Linked DNA regions of Homo sapiens. Changing the gene in region 1 together with any one later gene gives a genetic interaction. Each region holds a gene or a part of one and is shown in the gene's direction. Other genes may lie near its edges.

Region 1 (3,825 bases):
AAAGATAGGTGCTTATATATTCTATTTGTCTTATTATTTTCTTAAATGTTTATATTCTCCTAACTGCTTTTAAAATTAGCACTATTTGGCTGCCTTGATCTACAGTGAAACTTAGGTCTTTTTCCTCTCCCATTTGCACAAACTCATTTTTCTTTGATCTGCAGATATGTTTTTTATACTTATGTATGTCTCCTCCAACCTTCTTTCATAATCTAATTTGTTTATTAAACCTTGTTTAATACTTACTAAATTATTAAATTTTTTATTTTTTTAAGCTTTGTTTAATTTTCTCATTTATTTTGCCGTTTTTGAGTTGTAATCACTTACTCGGTTGTACTATAACCTAGTAGTGAACAGTCATTACCTCACACAAAATAAGAACATTTTTTACCCAAATTATTAACAATGCCAGCTAGCCTGAGAACCCTGTGCAATCCCTTTTGCTAAGAATCAGCCACCTTTTCATTGTGTGTTTTAACCATTGGTGCTTGCTTAATTTATTCATTCTGTTAATAAGCTAATAGCATGAACCAAACATTCCAGTTTAAGATGTCAAAGGACCCAAATCAAAAACCCCTTAGAAAAGGTTTTATATTCCCCTTCTCGCTCATCAGTTATTACTTTTCCTTGATTCTCAAGACTTATTACTCTTTCATGGAAGGTAATTGAGTTAGTAGGGGATTTGCTACTTTCCTGAGGCCTTGATGTTTTTTGTCAGTTTTACCACATTCAAAGGCTTTTTAGAGTTTTTCTCCCCTGCCCACTAGTCTTTAGCAGTAAATGGACATCTGATAATCTGTGACATATGATGTTGCTCCTTTTCTTAAGGGTACACATAAAATTTCATTACACAGAATTCCATAGGACATTCTGGGTTTTACTGCAGTAGAATTTTTTTATCCTTTTTGTAATTGATATTTTCCTGGAGGTTAACAATTCTAGTTTTCTGGAACTGTAATTTCCAGGAAAATATCCAGAAAAGTTTAGGAGAAAATTAGTAGGCCTCAAACTTTTTGGAATCAGCTGTTAGTGAAGTTATTTGCTTCAGTTTTGGTAGAGTTTTTTTTAGCAGTTTTAATTTTTCTGGGAGATTGTTTAATCTGATTAAAACAAGTTAAAAAAAGATAATGAAAACCATAAAAACCCCTTGCCTACCCCTCTCTTCATCAACTATGATACAAACTATGCAGATATTTTTTACATGTAAAGTATCCTGAAAGCATTTCAGGCAAACCAGCAAGGCCTATGTAAATAATTTTTATTGTACAGAAGATACATTCTTTTTGAGATAATTAATGTCATTGCAGTTGGCTGTAACCTATTTTAATAACTTTTTTCTGTTTCCTCTCTATTCCTGCTTTTCCACTGAAAAACAAGTATTGATAGATTGACAAAACCAAGTTGAAAGTACAGCCATAGTAGAGGTTAAACTAAAGTATTTCACTATAGCTCATTTACTTGAACCACCCAGTTTTATAGAATAATAGAAGAAATGCTATTTAACCAACAAAGAGCATGTCAGTGAATTATTCAGCTAATAATTATGTATAGAATATTTCACTTAGAAAATGTTTCCTACTGAGTTCATTATATTTTTTAAACTTAGATTAATGATCCATTAGCAGGATAGTGGGTCATTACCAGCACTCAAAAACCCAAAATAAAAATAGAATAGTGTAGAAAAGATCAGCATATGTTGCACACAGTAAGTGTTCTGTGAAACTTTTGCTTCACATAAGTTATGGATATGGAATATGTATTTGTCGCAGTACAAATACCTGATTAAAGTGAAAATTTGAAAGTCATCACCATAGTTCCCAGCCATAAGGAAAATCTACGTAATGTTTTCACACTATGATAAAAATAGTAACTATGATTTATTGACTACCTATTACATAATTAGCACTTTTACACAGTAGCTTTTCCTTACTGTAAATCTTTTAGATTAGATATCACCCCAGTTTTATAGATCAAGAAATAGGTTCAGAGAGGTTATGACTTATCCAAGCCTGGATCCATACCCAAGTCTAACTGGCTTCAAAGCTCCAGACTCTCTCTTTATACCAAAATGATAATGAAACAAAGTATAACTTGGATTCAATCCAGAGGAATCATCTCTAAATCCCAAGGCCTGGGAATATGATGACAACAGTGCATTCATTCATTTATGTATTTATTTTGAGACAGAGTCTCACTGTGTCACCCAGGCTGGAATGCAGTGGCATGATCTTGGCTCACTGCAACCTCCACCTCCCAGGTTCAAGCTGTTCTCCTGCCTCAGCCTCCTGAGTAGCTGGGACCACAGGCACACACCACCATGCCAGGCTAATTTTTTTATTTTTAGCAGAGACGGGGTTTCGCCATGTTGGCCAGGTTGGTCTCGAACTCCTGACCTCAAGTGATCCACCCGCCTTGGCCTCCCAAAGTGCTGGGATTACAGGTGTGAGCCACCGTGCCCAGCCTATTTATTAATAGGAAAATGCTTTGGTGGTCCTTGGGAGTTTATTATACAGTGATAGCTCAATTTACATAGTTTCTGAAATAAAGGTCAATGACATCAACCATGTTTTCTTTTGTTTTTAATTGAAACGTGTGCCTTACTTGGGTATAGAGGAAGATAGGGAGGGTGAGGAAAATTTGTTGTCTTCAGCACTACATAGTTGGCTGTGATACTATTTACCAGGTGGGTATTCCCAAGTTGCTGCTTTGCAGACCTTAAGGTTGAGGGGGCAGCTCTAGGGGTTTAGAAGGCTGTGAAACTACTTGTTTTGTCATCTCCTTTGCTTACAGTTCCTTTCTGGAAATGAATCTCGTGTTAATAAAATTATTTGAATGCCTTTAGAACATTAGATTGTTCTGCTGACATACATTCTTTTTAATGTGTATTGCTGGGCATGATGGCTCATGCCTGTAATCCCAACACTTTGGGAGGCCAAGGTGAACAGATCTCTTGAGCCCAGGAGTTGGAGACCAGCCTGGGCAACATGGCGAAACCCTGTCTCTACAAAAAAATAGAAAAATTAGCTGGACGTGGTAGCTTGCACCTGTGGTCCCAGCTTCTCAGGAGGCTGAGGTGGGTGGATCACTGAAGCCTGGGAGGTTGACGCTGCAGTGAGCCATGATTGCGCCACTGTACTCCAGCTTGGGTGGCAGTAAAACCTTGTCTGTCTCAATCAGTCAGTCAGTTTATATAGGTAAGCTCTTTTTGCAAATGTTAAATTATCAGTAGGTTTTATCTTGTCTTTGTATATAATTGCCATGTTTCATTGGCCTCATCATTAGGTAATTTAACTCCTATAGGCTGGGTGTGGTGGTGCACACCTGAAGTCCCAGCTACCTGGGGGGCTGAAGTGGGAGGATTGCATGAGCCTGGAAGGTTGAGGCTACAGTGAGCCATGGTTGTGCCACTGTACTCCAGCCTGGGTGATAGAGCAAGACCCTGTCTCAAACACAAACAAAAATAAACTTTTGTAAACTTTATCAGAGTATTCAACTGCTAAGATTTTATTTTTAATTTATTCAGCAGTGTGTGAAAGTAAAGATTTATCTGATACAGTTAGAACAGTATTAAAACAAGAAATGAATCGTCTTTTTGGAGCAACGAATCCAAAGAATTTTAATGAAACTTTTCTGAAAAGGAATTCTGATTCATTGCCACACAGATTATCAGGTAATCACTTTATTTTATCCTTAGCCTTCTAAAACAACTTCAGTAATTTTAATGAATCAACAATAATATAAGGTACATGTTTTTAGAATGGAAGAGGCAGTGTGTATATGTTACATTGTGATCGTATGAAAACAGGCAGCTTAAATAAGCTTCCT
Region 2 (3,825 bases), on another chromosome or scaffold:
CATCATGCTTCCAGCTTTGTTCTTTTTGCTTAGGATTGCCTTGGCAATTCAGGCTCTTTTTTGGTTCCATGTGAATTTTTAAATTGTATTTTCTAGTTCTGTGAAGAATCTCATTGGTAGTGTGATAGGAGTAACATTGAATCTATAAAATACTTTGGGCAGTATAGTCATTTTAATGATATTGATTCTTTCTATCCATGAGCATGGAATGTTTTTCCATTTGTTTGTGTCATCTCTGATTTCTTTAAGCAGTGTTTTGTGGTTCTTATTGTAGAGATCTTTCACTTTCCTGGTTTACTGTATTTCTAGGTATTTTATTCTTTTTGTGGCAATTGTGAATTGAATTGCATTCCTGATTTGGTTCTCAGCTTGACTGTTGTTGGCATATTGGAATGCTAATTATTTTTGTACATTGATTTTGTACAACTGAGTCTTCACTGAAGTTGTTTATCAGCTTAAGGGGTTTTGGGTCAAGACTATGGGGTTTTCTAGATATAGGATCATGTCATCTGCAAACAGAGATAGCTGTTTTCCTCTCTTCCTGTTTGGATGTCCATTATTTCTTTCTCTCACCTGATTTATCTGGCCAGGACTTCCAATACTATGTTAAATAGGAGTGTTGAGAGAGGGAATCCTTGTCTTGTGTCAATTTTCAAGGGGAATGTTTTCAACTTTTGCCCATTCAATATGATGTTGGCTGTGGGTTTGCCATAGATGGCTAATATGTTGAGGTTTGTTCTTTAAATACCTAGTTTATTGAGAATTTTAAACATGTTGAATTTTATTGAGAGCCTTTTCTGCATCTATTGAGATGATCATGTGGCTTTTGTCCTTAGTTCTGTTTGTGTGGTGAATCACATTTATTGATTTGCATATGTTGAACCAATCTTGCATCCCAGGGATGAAGCCGACTTGATTGTGGTGGCTTAAGCTTTTTGATGTGCTGCTGGATTCGATTTGCCAGTATTTTGTTGAGGATTTTTATGTCTATGTTCATCAGAGATATTGGCCTGAAGTTTTCTTTTTTTGTTGTATCTCTGCCAAGCTTTGGTATCAGGATGACATTGGCCTCATAGAATGAGTTAAGGAAGAGTCCCTCCTTCTCAATTTTTTTGGAATAGTTTCAGTAGGAATGGTACCAGCTTTTTTTGTACATCTTGTAGAATTTGGCTATGAATCCATCTAGTCTTAGGCTTTGTTTTGGTTGGTAGGCTATTTATTACTGATTCAATTTTGGAGCTCATTATTGGTCTGTTCAGGGATTCAGTTTCTTCCTGAGGTTTTTATTTTTATCAAATGGAACTTAAGCTTTTTCATTTCCAATTTTTTTATGATCTAAAAATGTGCAGTTTACAGCCCTGTTCAGAATCTGCATCTTCCTCATTCTGCAGATACAGGTCCCTCAGAGCAGGTGACTGAGTGTGTATCCTGTCTGGAGCATAATACTTATGCTAGTAGAGTTACTGTTGTCTTTATTGTTAATTACCAAAGTTTACCACTTATCAGTCACTTACTACTTGCTGGGCATTGCACTAAGCATTTCAGTTGTATTATCTTGTTGGGTCCTTACAGCAATCCTGTGAAACAGATACTGCTATTACCCCACTTTATAGAGAGGTAGACTGAGGCTTCCAGCATTGAAGCAAATTGCCCAAGACTACAGAAATGTAGGTTTCTAAACATCAAGAAACAGTAACCAGTAATGATGACTAAAGCAAGGGATTGTGATTGTTCATTCATGATCCCACTGCCTTCTTTTCTTGCTTCATCCTCTCAGGGGTGACTGTTTGGGAGTTGATGACCTTTGGATCCAAGCCATATGACGGAATCCCTGCCAGCGAGATCTCCTCCATCCTGGAGAAAGGAGAACGCCTCCCTCAGCCACCCATATGTACCATCGATGTCTACATGATCATGGTCAAGTGTGAGTGACTGGTGGGTCTGTCCACACTGCCTAGCTGAGCCTTGGTGGCTGCTCTTAGCCAAACAGCTGAGGCCTTTGCATCCCTGGAGAAATGTCATCACATTACTTAAGGCAGGCACACAAATCCAGAAACATCTGTAAATACCCCTTCAAGCATTCTTTTAAAGACACTTCTTGACTCATTGGGCAGTATGACCTGACATTTGCCCATGTTTGCAAGCAAATAAATAAAACTAAAGTCTTCCGCAAGCCATTACACCAAAATATTCTATTCGCTGAGTTACTCAATGAAATACCGAGTTGCCCTATATTTTGAAGCCTGTTACCAGAGAGACTGAATGTTTTTAAATGCATGGCAGTGAGTAACAACATAAGGCTAATAGAGTCAACATTTCTGCTTTGACTTAAACCTTTTAAACCAGTGGATTTATGTGAAGTCTCTGCAGTGTGGCATTTAAACATTTCAATCTAAATAAGAGTGTGTAATTTGATTGATGCTATTATTCTACCAGATTCACGAGTGCAGTGGGCTCTGGAGGTAGCATTACATGCATGGGATGAGCATTTGCAAAAGAAAGTTGTATAGGGAATATGACAGAGCCAAGTTAATGTAAATATTAATGCCTTTCTGAACTCTAGGCCACAGAGTTGATCTTTTTTAACTTCCTTGGTTTGGGCTAAGGAAGCTGTGATCCAGAGAAGCCACGTGATTTGTCTAAGGTCACATAGCAGTCTGGCCTAAAATAGCTTGATATGCTGTGGATGGAAAATAAATGTGATCCCTCAAGAGGCATGAGGATTTCCAGGCAGTAGCCATACCTCCAAATTGTTTAATCTGGATTTAGATTGTTGGGTAGTCACATGCAGCAGCACAGTTAACAGTGTGTCCTCCTGTGGAAGTTGCCAGCACAGCCAGCCCTCTCACTTGCATGCATGCCCACCAGCCTTCTCACTTGCATGCATGCCCACTGGGTATGTGCTGTACTGGAGACGCCGGGGGTAGGGGCCCAGTCCCAACCCCAAATTCTTTAAAGCCTATTTTTCTAAGTTGCATCTGGTTTCCTACCTGAAGGAATGCTAAGGGTGGATGTTGAGTGAGGACCTTGGTGCAGGGCACCCTGCAGTCAGGATAGTTCATGGAGAGCAATTGTACAGACCCACACTGCTCCATCCCCTCAGGCGTAACACAGGATGCTGACCCCAGGAAGAGTGGGCGTAGAAAAACTAGAGGGCATTATTGTTATTCTGATTCAAATGTACAGTGCTGGCATGGTCTTTAAACAGTAACCAGTACTAGCTGGCCAAGACAGAAAAGTCTACCACAAAGACTTGGTTCTTTCATCACTTATTTGACTGGAAGTGTCGCATCACCAATGCCTTCTTTAAGCAATGCCATCTTTATCATTTCTTCCAGTGTTCTAATTGCACTGTTTTTTCTCATTCCTTCCCCAGGCTGGATGATAGACGCAGATAGTCGCCCAAAGTTCCGTGAGTTGATCATCGAATTCTCCAAAATGGCCCGAGACCCCCAGCGCTACCTTGTCATTCAGGTACAAATTGCAGTCTGTGCTTCCATTGGGAAGAGTCCCTCTAATGAGCATCTCATGTCACTGTGTTCTGTCACATGCCAGCCTGGCCTCCCTGTGTCCCAGATCGCATTATTAAACCCTCCAGCGCATTAGAGCAAGCCTCAGTAAGGCGCAGGCCACATCGTGAACTAAGCAGCATCCGTGAGTGGGGCCCACCCAACTCCATCTCCCCCTCCCCGTCTGAACTCTCCTCTGGTGCTCGTCCTCACTGTCCGGCTAGCCAAAGCCTCAGCTGGGTCTAAGAGAGAAGCATGGTCTATTGGGCTTTGGTGTCAGGCAGACGTGGCTTCACACCCCTGACTCTCCACTTCT

Evidence for each region.
Region 2: changes in NAA15 (region 1) and EGFR together harm fitness more than expected from each alone (negative genetic interaction), as found in Homo sapiens cells (one large-scale study listed by BioGRID).

What each region holds. Positions count from the first base shown.
Region 1 is NC_000004.12:139,381,309-139,385,133, forward strand, and holds part of NAA15 (N-alpha-acetyltransferase 15, NatA auxiliary subunit), read left to right. Parts: intron 1-3,523; coding exon 3,524-3,670; intron 3,671-3,825. UniProt on the Homo sapiens protein: Auxillary subunit of N-terminal acetyltransferase complexes which display alpha (N-terminal) acetyltransferase (NAT) activity. The NAT activity may be important for vascular, hematopoietic and neuronal growth and development.
Region 2 is NC_000007.14:55,196,940-55,200,764, forward strand, and holds part of EGFR (epidermal growth factor receptor isoform a precursor), read left to right. Parts: intron 1-1,777; coding exon 1,778-1,924; intron 1,925-3,376; coding exon 3,377-3,474; intron 3,475-3,825. UniProt on the Homo sapiens protein: Receptor tyrosine kinase binding ligands of the EGF family and activating several signaling cascades to convert extracellular cues into appropriate cellular responses.